3 linked regions of the Homo sapiens genome follow. The protein of the gene in region 1 binds, or shares a complex with, the protein of each later gene. Each region holds a gene or a part of one and is shown on either strand. Other genes may lie near its edges. The genes, in order: MED13L, MED20 and MED25.

The links.
Region 2: MED13L (region 1) and MED20 share a complex: the UniProt entries of both Homo sapiens proteins name them as parts of the mediator complex.
Region 3: MED13L (region 1) and MED25 share a complex: the UniProt entries of both Homo sapiens proteins name them as parts of the mediator complex.

What each region holds. Positions count from the first base shown.
Region 1 is NC_000012.12:115,959,667-115,963,313, forward strand, and holds part of MED13L (mediator of RNA polymerase II transcription subunit 13-like), read right to left. Parts: intron 1,733-3,647; coding exon 1,600-1,732; 3' UTR 1-1,599. UniProt on the Homo sapiens protein: Component of the Mediator complex, a coactivator involved in the regulated transcription of nearly all RNA polymerase II-dependent genes.
Region 2 is NC_000006.12:41,918,264-41,922,577, forward strand, and holds the start of MED20 (mediator of RNA polymerase II transcription subunit 20), read right to left. Parts: upstream 2,877-4,314; 5' UTR 2,756-2,876; coding exon 2,742-2,755; intron 2,681-2,741; exon of another isoform or gene 2,537-2,680; intron 1-2,536. Other genes in the region: BYSL (bystin), read left to right, coding at 3,300-3,567. UniProt on the Homo sapiens protein: Component of the Mediator complex, a coactivator involved in the regulated transcription of nearly all RNA polymerase II-dependent genes.
Region 3 is NC_000019.10:49,821,230-49,824,876, reverse strand, and holds part of MED25 (mediator of RNA polymerase II transcription subunit 25), read right to left. Parts: intron 1-3,647. UniProt on the Homo sapiens protein: Component of the Mediator complex, a coactivator involved in the regulated transcription of nearly all RNA polymerase II-dependent genes.

The sequences.
Region 1 (3,647 bases):
CAACCCCCCCTTCAACTGGTGGTACAGAGAACAAAATTATCCATTTACAAGTTATTTCTCTGCTTTCACATTCCCACCACACAACTTTTTTTTTAATATAATGTTTTAAACTTTAGATTATTTCAAGAAAAATACTTTTACAAAATCATATCAATTATTACATTTTTCCTTTTTTGTTAATAACCAGGACATGGAAGTCTCTTGGAAGAACTTTTAAAATTTGCATGATTCTCTCCACAGATGACAAGAGCTCAAAGGCCTGGTCACAGTGGCTCCCGGGAGGCCAGTACACACCCACTGTCCTCAGACAGAAACACACAACACAAGGGTTAGAAACAGGGTTTCAAAGACAACCCTCTGGGCCAGGAATGAGGAGTCATAAAATACTTCAATTAGCCATTAATGCTTTAAAAAGGCATTTTTTTAAAAAGTCCCACCACAAAGGCTCAACTTCAAGTACTAATTTAATGGTTAAGTTGTAATATTTCTTTGAAATAATATTCCTATGGTCCAGAAAAAATTCACCATATTTATAACTGATTTCATGAGCAAACACTTTCAATTGTTGTATGTACATAAGTCCCTTTTGATCTAATGAGAGGAGAGACCTGGCTTCCAATAAGAATTCACTAGAAAATATATTTCCGTTGTGACTATATAAAACTAATTAAGGTACTTGCCTCCATGGCTCTGAGTTGAGCTTGACTGCCTTCTGTATAAAAATGTTATCCTTCATGAAATGCTGGCCACTTAACATGGCAGAACTTTTAAAATCCAGTTTGTTGTTAACAAAACCTACTGCTGGGTGGTTTTGAATATATTACTTTTAGGCATGATCTCCCCAATGTGTTTTTACTCCTTTTCCGGCTTCTAGGACAGAGGTATGTAGTCAAAGAATCCTATGGTGGATCTGAATTGGGTTTCAGCTACTGTACCTGGTCCTTGTGAATTAAAAAAATAAAGTCACAAAAACCATATGACAAAACAAATTAAAATAAATAAACAAAATGAAGCTGTCTCCAGACCTTCTGCATTGACACACAGGTTTGAAGTCAACCAAAGCACTCATGCTAATCTGGATGGGAACACTAGGGAGACAGAAACCCCAGTATGAAACCATGTACTTGAGCTGGTTCTTATTTTTAAAAAGTCCCAGATTATGGAGTTCAGGTAACCCACAGGCCATACACCAGTAACTAAGAGGATTTCATCCAAAGGGCTAGACTGCCCTCAATTGTATACAGAGGCTGAAAACACAGACTCTTGTGCAAAAGGACACTGTCTCTTCTGTTTCCCGCTGAAAAGCCATCAACCACCACCACTTCCTGGGGACCAGTGGTTGGGGCTACACACACCACCGCACTGGCTGAAAGTCACCACTTATGGAAGTTTCCAGGTCCATGAGAGAAGTGTCAAGGAGTCACTCTGGTAATGAACACTGCAGAATTGACATGTGCCTGCTGAGAAGGAATCACAGTGCAGGACTGTGGAGAGTGGTCTGAAGAAAAGGATGTGGGTTATTTGCAGAGTGTAGCAGGTTCCTTGGACTGAGGTTGCAGGGAGAAGGAACTGAGCCAGAGAGAACAAGTGCTTTTCCAATTAAAGTATATTCATGATGGCATTGTACAACTGAGTGAGCACCACAAAGTGGACGGGAAGGCAGGAAGTACGGTCCTGGGTGGCCGGATTGCACGTGAGCCAGGACAGAGCGTTGTACTGCTCCAAAACAAACCTGCCAAAGAGAACACACAGAGCAGGGGCGTGAGCCTCAAGAGGGAAGGCTGGTTCTCAGATTCTAATACATTCCAGATCTTAGCAGGAAGGAGGTCTCAAAGGCATTCCTTAACTTGCCCCAGGCTCTTTCCCTCATCCTTTGTCTCATGTTCCTCCTTCCTTCTAGATATGGACTATCCAGTACAGTAGCCAGCAGCCACACATGGCCATTGAGCTCCGCCAGTGAGGCCAGTAGGAACTTGCGTGGACTGCAGGTAAAGTAGGCACTGGAGCCCAAACACTTAGGGGCCAGGTGCAGTGGCTCACGCCTGGAATCCCAGCAACTTTGGGAGGCCGAGGTGGGGGTGGATCACCTGAGGTCAGGAGTTCAAGACCAGGTGGCCAACATGGTGAAACCCCATCTCTATTAAAAATACAAAAATTAGTCAGGCGTGGTGGTGCATGCCTGTAATCCCAGCTACTTGGGAGGCTGAGGCAGGAGAATTGCTTGAACCTGTGGGCGGAGGTTGCAGTGAGATCATGCCACTGCACTCCAGCCTGGGTGACAGAGCAGGACTCCGTCTCCAAAAAAAAAAGAAAAAGAAAACGAAAAAAAGAAAAGTATGTAAAATATTTCATGAATATTTTTATATTGTTACATGTTGAAATAACATTTTGAGTATATTGAGTTAAATAAAATATATTACTAAAATTAACCAGTTTCTTTTTACTATTTTAATGTGGCTAACAGAAAAATTTTAATTAGATTTGAGGTTCACATTGTATTTCTATTGGACAGTGTTCCTCTAGGGCAGCAGTCTCCAACCTTTTTTGGCACCAGGGACCAGTTTCGTGGAAGACAATTTTTCCACGTGGTGGGGGATGGTTTCAGGATGAAACTGTTCCACCTTAAATCATTAGGAGTCTCATAAAGAGTACACAACCTAGATCCCTTGCATGTGCGGTTCACAATAGGGTTTGTGCCCCTATGAGAATCTAATGTCATTGCCTGACAGGAGGCGGAGCACAGGCTGTAATGCTCGCTCACTTGCTACTTACCGCATGCTGTGGGGCCTGGTTCCTAACAAGGCATGGACGGGGGTTGGGGACCCCTGCTCTAGGGGGCCTGGAAGCCAAATTTATGTTGATCAGGTTCTTTATTTTTATCCATAACTATAATTATACATTAATCTATAATATATAGTTTCCTATCATTTCCTAACCATTTAAGAGTTAGAAAACATTAGAAAAGGCCTGTATATTTTCTCAAGGTAGATGAAGAATGCCTGTGGCTTGATTAATACACACTTCTGGAATGCACTTCTCAACTATGTCATTTATGTTCTAGTCCATTTTTAAAAAAACACATAATCGGTGGCTCATGCCTGTAATCTCAGCACTCTGGGAGGCTGAGGCAGGCAGATCATGAGGTCAGATCGAGATCATCCTGGCTAACACGGTGAAATCCCGTCTCTACTAAAAATACAAAAAATTAGCCGGGCATTCTGGCGGGTGCCTGTAGTCCCAGCTACTTGGGAGGCTGAGGCAGGAGAATGGCATGAACCCAGGAGGCGGAGTTTGCAGTGAGCTGAGATCACGCCTCTGCACTCCAGCCTGGGTGACAGAGCGAGACTCCATCTCGAATAAACAAACAAAAATACATAATCTATCTCAGGAAGCATAAAAAGTGTTTTCAATGTGAGGTGCTTTAAGAGTTCCAGACACTGTCTTCTAACTATCCACCCCCAAGATCTGACCTCTCTTCATCACCATGAAGTGCCTGCTCTGAACAGGAAGCAAAGGCAACTATAAATGCCTATCACTGCCTAACTGAATCCAATGTATTACACCGCCTGTCCCATGCAGCTATGAGGGACTGCAGCTCTCACTGACTCATCAGATACTGTATCACTGCACAAACGGCAGCTTCTATG
Region 2 (4,314 bases), on another chromosome or scaffold:
GAGGCCGAGGTGGGCGGATCACTTGAGGTCAGGAGTTCGAGACCAGCCTAGCCAACATGGTGAAACCCTGTCTCTACCAAAAATACAAAACTTAGCCAGGCATGGTGGTGTGCGCCTGTAATCCCAGCTACATGGGAGGCTGAGGCAGGAGAATCACTTGAAACCAGGAGGCGGAGGTTGCAGTGAGCCAAGATCGCACCACTGCCCTCCAGCCTGGACAACAAGAGCGAAACTCCATCTCAAAAAGAAAAAAAAAAAGACGAAACTTGGCCAGGCACGGTGGCTCACGCCTGTAATCCCAGCACTTTGGGAGGCCAAGGCGGGCAGATCACGAGGTCAGGAGATCAAGACCATCCTGGCTAACACGGTGAAACCCCGTCTCTACCAAAAATACAAAAAAATGGCCGGGCGCGGTGGCTCACGCCTGTAATCCCAGCACTTTGGGAGGCCGAGGCGGGTGGATCATGAGGTCAGGAGATCGAGACCATCCTGGCTAACAAGGTGAAACCCCGTCTCTACTAAAAATACAAAAAATTAGCCGGGCGCGGTGGCGGGCGCCTGTAGTCCCAGCTACTCGGGAGGCTGAGGCAGGAGAATGGCGTGAACCCGGGAAGCGGAGCTTGCAGTGAGCCGAGATTGCGCCACTGCAGTCCGCAGTCCGGCCTGGGCGACAGAGCGAGACTCCGTCTCAAAAAAAAAAAAAAAATACAAAAAAATTAGCCAGGCATGGTGGTGGGCGCCTGTAGTCCCAGCTACTCGGGAGGCTGAGGCAGGAGAATGGCATGAACCCGGGAGGCGGAGCTTGCAGTGAGCCGAGATCACGCCACTGCACTCCAGCCTGGGCAACAGAGTGAGACTCTGCCTCAAAAAAAAAAAAAAAAAAAAAAAAGAGGAAACTTAAGTACAGCACAAAGAGGTTAAATAACTTGCACTAGGTCACACAGTTAATGGGTGGTACACTCAAGACTCAAAGCCCAGCAACCTGGCTTGATGTCCATGCTCTTAACCACTAACTAGACTGCCTGTATAAGGATGTAGTGCCTGTTAAAACATTAAGGAAAATCGATTAAAAAATTAATAAACAATAGTACAAGCAGTACTTAGCTATATAGAAATCAAGAAAACAGTCATAGATGACATTGCTTTATGATCAACTAAATGAATCTATTAAGGTAGAGTCCTTCTGTTGCTAAAAATTGTCACTACTCTATCAGAAAAAAACACTGATAAACGATGTTGCTAATGTGCCTTATTTTGAAATACAAAAGAATCCCTAAACTGACGCTACAAGTGACAGAAGTCCTAGGATTCTGAAAACGTTGATAAGGGGGCCAACAGAGAGCCCTTTCCCTGGAGCTGCCTTCTCCATTTAAAGAGCAGGGGTGGCTGGGCACGGTGGCTCATGTCTATAATGCCAATACTTTGGGAGACCAAAGCAGGAGGCTCGCTTGAGTTCAGGAATTCAAGACCTGCATGTACAAAACAGCAAGACCCCATTTCTATTTCTTTAAAAAAAAGAAAGAGCAAGGGTTCCAGGGTTCTACGCTGCATCCTTTCCATTTCCATTCCTCACATATCTTGCTTCCATTAAGGAACACAGGAGGATCGTGTCAATCGTAGGAAGCAAGAGTGCAATCACTGAGAAACCTGCAAGAACCTGGGCTACCAGGAGGAAAAGTATTTCCCCTACACATGCTTTTGTATGAGAAGCCTATATCCACTGGCTTCAAATATCCTGGCCTCCGGATTTCTCCCACGGGAAAAATGCTCACATCTACTGAGATAAGAAAAAAATGTTCTGGGACCTGGCACCTTACAACTAACGCCTCCACGAGCACTGGACCCATACCTTTCCCTGCCACCTCATCTTCTTTCAACTGAGACTTAAAACATATGAAAGATAAAAACTCCATTGAAACTAGACCAACCATGGAATTAAACATAGTGGGAAACGGGTCCTAAAGAGATAAAGTGCCTGGAACCATGATCTCCTTATTATCAATACCCTTTTTTCCTCTAGACCCAAGATCTTAAAATGAGCAAATTAGAAACAGACACAAGCGGGTCTAACTGTATTTGATGGCTGAGGGAAGAGCAGGCGAAAATCTTAAAAAATACTATCTCCTGATTGCTTATGGCCCACTCCCTCCAACCCTGTCTGCAGGTGGGTCATAGTCCAAAGACCCTATTTCCAACCCTGAGGTCCCACTGCAGGCAGTACTATGGCCTCACGGGAAGGAAGATGTATCCAGAAGAGAATGAGGTATACAACCATTGATAGGTTCCTGGGATAAAAAGTTTGCTTTGTCGACACCAGCGTGGCCAATATGGTGAAACCCCATTTCTACTAAAAATACAAAAAGTAACCGGGCGTGGTGGCGGGCGCCTGTAGTCCCAGCTACTCGGGACTACAGGAGAATCGCTTGAACCCAAGAGGCGGAGTGTTGCAGTGAGCCAAGATCGCTCCACTGCACTCCAGTCTGGCGACAGAGCGAGACCCCGTCTTAAAAAAAACAAAACAAAACAAAAAAAAAACCTTTGCTTTCCCGCCTTCCAAGAGGAAGGGGCGCATCTCTGAGGAAACAAGCCCGGGGAACCCGCAGCCCGGACGGCATCCTCTCATCTACACAACCCGAGGACATCTCCCTCAGCTCCCAGAGGACGGCGGACCATGGTCAAGGTCCTCTTTCCGGCCTTTCACAACTCCAAGCCCCGCCCCACAAAACCCCCTGCAGTCCTACCAAGTCACTCCCATGGCGTCGGGCCAGGAAGGTGGCAGAATCACACAGTAGAAACGCAGGGTTCCCTGTCCGCCCACAGAAACTCCTTCAGTTCCCCAACACAACCTTCTGTCTCAGAAGGGACTCCGGAAATACGTAAAAACAGAGCGCCGGGTCCACGCCTTCCCCAAGGAATGGGGCGTGTCTCGGCACCCCTCGGTGACGCCTCCACTGACATCATCTGCGGATTCCCGCCCCGAGGTTTCTAAATCCAGACATTCCCGTTTGGCTGAGCACTCTAGGCCTACATCCATGAAGCTAGGAGAGCGACACTCAAAGACTGCACTATTGAGAGAAGCTAACGTTAAAGGCAGTGAATATATTCGGGAGTCCAGCTCCGGAACCCGGGAGCTCTTTTAGTGGGAGGGGCGGCGCTGATGGCGCTTCTGGCCTCCGAATGCTAGGGGGCGCTGTGATCGCCGGGCGGCCTCTTGGGCGCTGGGAGTCCACCGCGCAAGCGCATCCTGGCCTTTCTTCAGTCCCCACGTGCGATCCTTCCCGGCAACTTTTTCGAGAAAAATGCCCAAATTCAAGGCGGCCCGTGGGGTGGGGGGTCAGGAAAAACATGCGCCCCTGGCCGATCAGATCCTGGCTGGGAATGCGGTGCGGGCGGGGGTCCGGGAGAAGCGGCGGGGTCGCGGGACAGGAGAAGCGGAGGAAGAGTATGTGGGGCCCCGGCTGAGCCGACGGATTTTGCAGCAAGCACGGCAGCAACAGGAGGAACTCGAGGCCGAGCATGGGACTGGGGACAAGCCCGCGGCGCCGCGGGAACGCACCACGCGGCTGGGTGAGTGTCTGGGATGAGGTCCGAGGAAGACAGTGGCCAGTAGTGGGGCGGGGTGGGCAGCTAAAAAGTGTCTGGCAGGGGAATTGCTTCGAGTCAACAAAGGGGTCCGTATTACACTTGCAAAGGAGACTGAACCCTGTCTAGAGCCCTCCGCGTCCACTCCTAGTTTTAGGCACTCCCTTCTAGACACCCCCGAAGTTAGGCCAACAGTAATCGATCGCGCCACTAAGTGCTCCTAGCATGTATCCATTGGTTTTGTAAATATTTATGGGATACCCACTACGAGCTTTGCGCTATGCTCGGAATTCTATCGAATGTTTGGGTACAGAAGTAAACAACACAGGCACGTCTAACTTAAGGACCTTACAGTCAAGCCCAGCAGAGAGGCAATTAAGTAGACTCTTAGAATAATATATTTCCATGATAAAGTATCGTTTCCCTGGTAACAATAGCATTGGTCTTGAGAAGCTTCTCCGATTGCAGCAGGACCTTTAAGCTGAGAACTGAAAAACGAATGGGAAGTGTTATGAGCAGAAAACACATTGTTTAGCAGCCAAAGAGCGAGAGAGATGAATTGAAAGACGTCTGATGTTTTCTCACTAGGGAGGGAGTGTTGACCTCTGAGGTGCTTCATCCGTTTCTCAGATCTCATCTAAAGCAATATTTGACACAATTGAATAGTGGCCTTCTGGCCACAGTATCCTTACTTGGGTTCTAAGACATCAACACTCCTGTTTTACTGCCACC
Region 3 (3,647 bases), on another chromosome or scaffold:
CTAACAGGTGCCTGGAGCCCCAGGAGGTCAAAATGAGTGAATGTTAACAGCATCCGGCCATGACCAAGGGCTCCCTACACACGGCCTGTCACCCAGGCAAACTAGTTCCATGAGGGCCAGGACCTTGCCTATCTCATGCCCACTAACTCCTTGGTGCCCAGGACGATTTGTTCCACAAACATTTGTTGAATTAATGAGTGAACATATGAATGAACAACTGAGTTGTCATAATGTTATGGGAAACACACTGGGTCTATTTTCCTTCCACCTCTTTTTTTTTTTTTTTTTTCCCGAGACAGGGTCTCGCTCTTTCACCCAGGCTGGAGTGCGGTGGCACAATCTCGGCTCACTGCAACCTCTGCCTCCCAGTCTCAGTTGATCCTCCTACCTCAGCCTCCTGAGTAGCTGGGACTACAGGTGTGCACCACCATGCCTGGTTAATTTTTTCTATTTATTTGTTGTTTTTGTATTACATACTAATTCATTTATTCAGCCAGTCTCCTGAAGCCCCGTGGGTGCCAAGCCCCAGCTGGAAGCAAATGGCAGAAGCACCCAGGGACCTGGACATTCACAGTCCAGAGGTGTGGGGCTGTGACAGGTCATGGAGGCAGAGGAGGAAGCATCTGGCTGCAAGAATCGGGAAGGTTTCCCAGGGTATAAGACACCTGAGCTGGGTCTGGAAGGCTATGCAGTGTCTTCCAGGGTGGTTAGTATTAAATGCATTCTGGACATTCATTCTACAGAATTTACCCGAGGCCTCCTGTGTACCAGGCCCTGTGCTGGCTGCCAGGCACTTGAGGAGCATCAGACTTGGACCTGGGCCTCAAGAAGTCTCCATTTAACATCACTCAAGACTGTCTTACCGGTCTCTCCCAGTGGTCTCAAATGGAATACATTTTGCGCCCCCTTCCCAGAGGATATTTTATAATGCCTGGAGACATTTTTGGTTGTCACACCTTTGGGAGGGGGCTACCGGCATCTAGTGAGTAGAGGCCAAGGATGATGTTAAACATCCTACAATACCCAGGACGGCCCCCACTACAAGGAATGACTGTGTCCACAGTGTCACTAGGGCCAAGGATGAGAAACCCTGCTCTGTGTTACCTACGAATTCCAGCTACCGCGAAGGGGAAGCTTCTGTGTCACCTTTTCACTATATGTCCTGCACCCAGCACTTGCACGCACATACTGGAACAAAGCAGATACTCAACAAACACCTGCTGCAGAAGCATACAGAGGTAACGGCCGCTACGAACAGGTGTTGTTTAATGAACCTTGACTGCAGACCAGGCCCTAAGCGACACACAGCAAGCAACTTAGCTCCTGTGATCTTCTAACAACACGGAGATACACGCGACCATTATCCATTTGCAAACCAGGAGAGTGAGGCACAAAATCCTAGGAAACACTTACACGGCACTTAATACATGCCAGGCACTGTATTAAACATCATCAACTAACTTAATTCTCCAAACATCGCTGTGAGGTTGCGGTACCCAGCCCCCAATACAGCACCCAGCAATCCAGCCTCTTGCTATTTACACACTGGGTAGTCTCCTCCTACACTGAACGGGATAGGCTTATACTGCACACCAAATGCAGTATGGCAGAAGTGGACTTGGCACCGCAGCTCAGGCCTGTGATCTCAGCACTCCAGCACTTAGGGAGGTCAAGGCAGGAGGATCGCTTGAGGCCAGGAGTTCAAGACCAGTCTGAGCAACACAGCAAGACCTCATCTCTACAAGAATTAAAATAAAGAAATCAGCCATGCATGGTGGTGCCCACCTGCAGTCCTAGGTACTCAGGAGGCTGAGGTGGGAGGATCACTTGAGCCCGAGAGGTCGAGGCTGCAGCAAGCTATGATCCCACCACTGCACTCCAATCTGGGCAACAGAGCAAGACCCTGTCTCAGGTTAAAAAACAGAATGTAGGCCAGGCGCGGTGGCTCACGCCTGTAATCCCAGCACTTTGGGAGGCCGAGGCGGGTGGATCACAAGGTCAGGAGACCGAGACCATCCCGGCTAACACAGTGAAACCCTGTCTCTACTAAAAATACAAAAAATTAGCTGGGTGTGGTGGCGGGCACCTGTAGTCCCAGCTACTCAGGAGGCTGAGGCAGGAGAATGGCGTGAACTCGGGAGGCGGAGCTTGCAGTGAGCTGAGATCGCACCACTGCACTTCAGCCTGGACAACAGAGCGAGACTCTGTCTCAAAAAAAAAAAAAAAAAAAAAAAAAGAATGTAACAGAAATAATGACATGACGTGTAACTTCCAAGACTTGATTACAAAGAGCCTAGTGGGGCCTCTGGGTGCAGCATCTCATGCCTCTAATCCCAGCACTTAGGGACACTGAAGTGGAGGATCACTTGAGACCAGGAGTTCAAAACCAGCCTGGGCAACATTGCAGGACCTTGTCTCCACAAAAAAAACAATTTTTTTTTGAGACAGGGTCTCAGTCAGTCAGTCACCCAAGCTGGAGCGCAGTGGTGCGATCTCTCCACCTCCTGGCTTGAAGTGATTCTCCTGCCTCAGCCTCCTGAGTAGCTAGGATTACAAGGCACATGCCACCACACCTGATTAATTTTTGTATGGTTTTTTTTTTTTTTTTTTTTTTGAGACAGAGTCTTGCTCTGTTGCCCAGGCTGGAGTGCAGTGGTGCAATCTTGGCTCACTGCAAACTCCGCCTCCTGGGTTCACGCCATTCTCCTGCCTCAGCCTCCCGAGTAGCTGGGACTGCAGGTGCCTGCCACCGCGCCCGGTTAAATTTTTGTATTTTTAGTAGAGACGGGGTTTCACCGTGTTAGCCAGGATGGTCTCCATCTCCTGACCTCATCATCCACCCGCCTCAGCCTCCCAAAGTGCTGGGATTACAGGCGTGAGCCACCACGCCTGCCCAATTTTTGTATTTTTTGTAGAGACGGGGTTTCACCATGTTGGCCAGGCTGGTCTCGAACTCCTGACCTCAGGTGATTCGCCCGCCTTGGCCTCCCAAAGTGCTGGGATTACAGGGATGAGCCACCGTGCCCCGCCACTACAAAATTTTTTTTTTTTTTTTTTTTTGAGACAGAATTTCACTCTTGTTGCCCAGGCTGGAGTGCAATGGTGTGATCTCGGCTCACTGCAACCTCCACCTCCCAGGTTCAAGCAATTCTCCTGCCTCAGCCTCCCAAGAGCTGGGATTACAGGCATGCGCCACCATGCCCAGCTAAGGCCTGTAATTTCAGCACTCCAGCACTTAGGGAGGTCAAGGCAGGATGATTGCTTGTATTTTTAGTAGAGGCAGGGTTTCACCATGTTGGACAGGCTGGTCTCGAACTCCTGACCTCAGGTGATCCACCTGCCCCAGCCTCCCAAAGTGCTGGGATTACAGGCGTGAGCCACCACGCCCGACCTACAAAAATATTTTTAAGAAATCAGCCAGGTGTGCTGGCATTTGGCTACCGTCCCTGCTACTCCAGCTACTCGGGAAGCTGAGATGGGAGGATCGCTTGAGCTTGAGCCCAGGAGGTCGAGGCTGCAGTGAGCCGTGACTGAGCCACTGCACTCCAGCCTGCGTGACAGAGTGAGACCCTTCCTCAAAAACAAGAGAGGCCTGGGGCTTCCTCTTTGCTCTCTCTATTGGGTCCCTCAATCTGAGGAATGCCAGT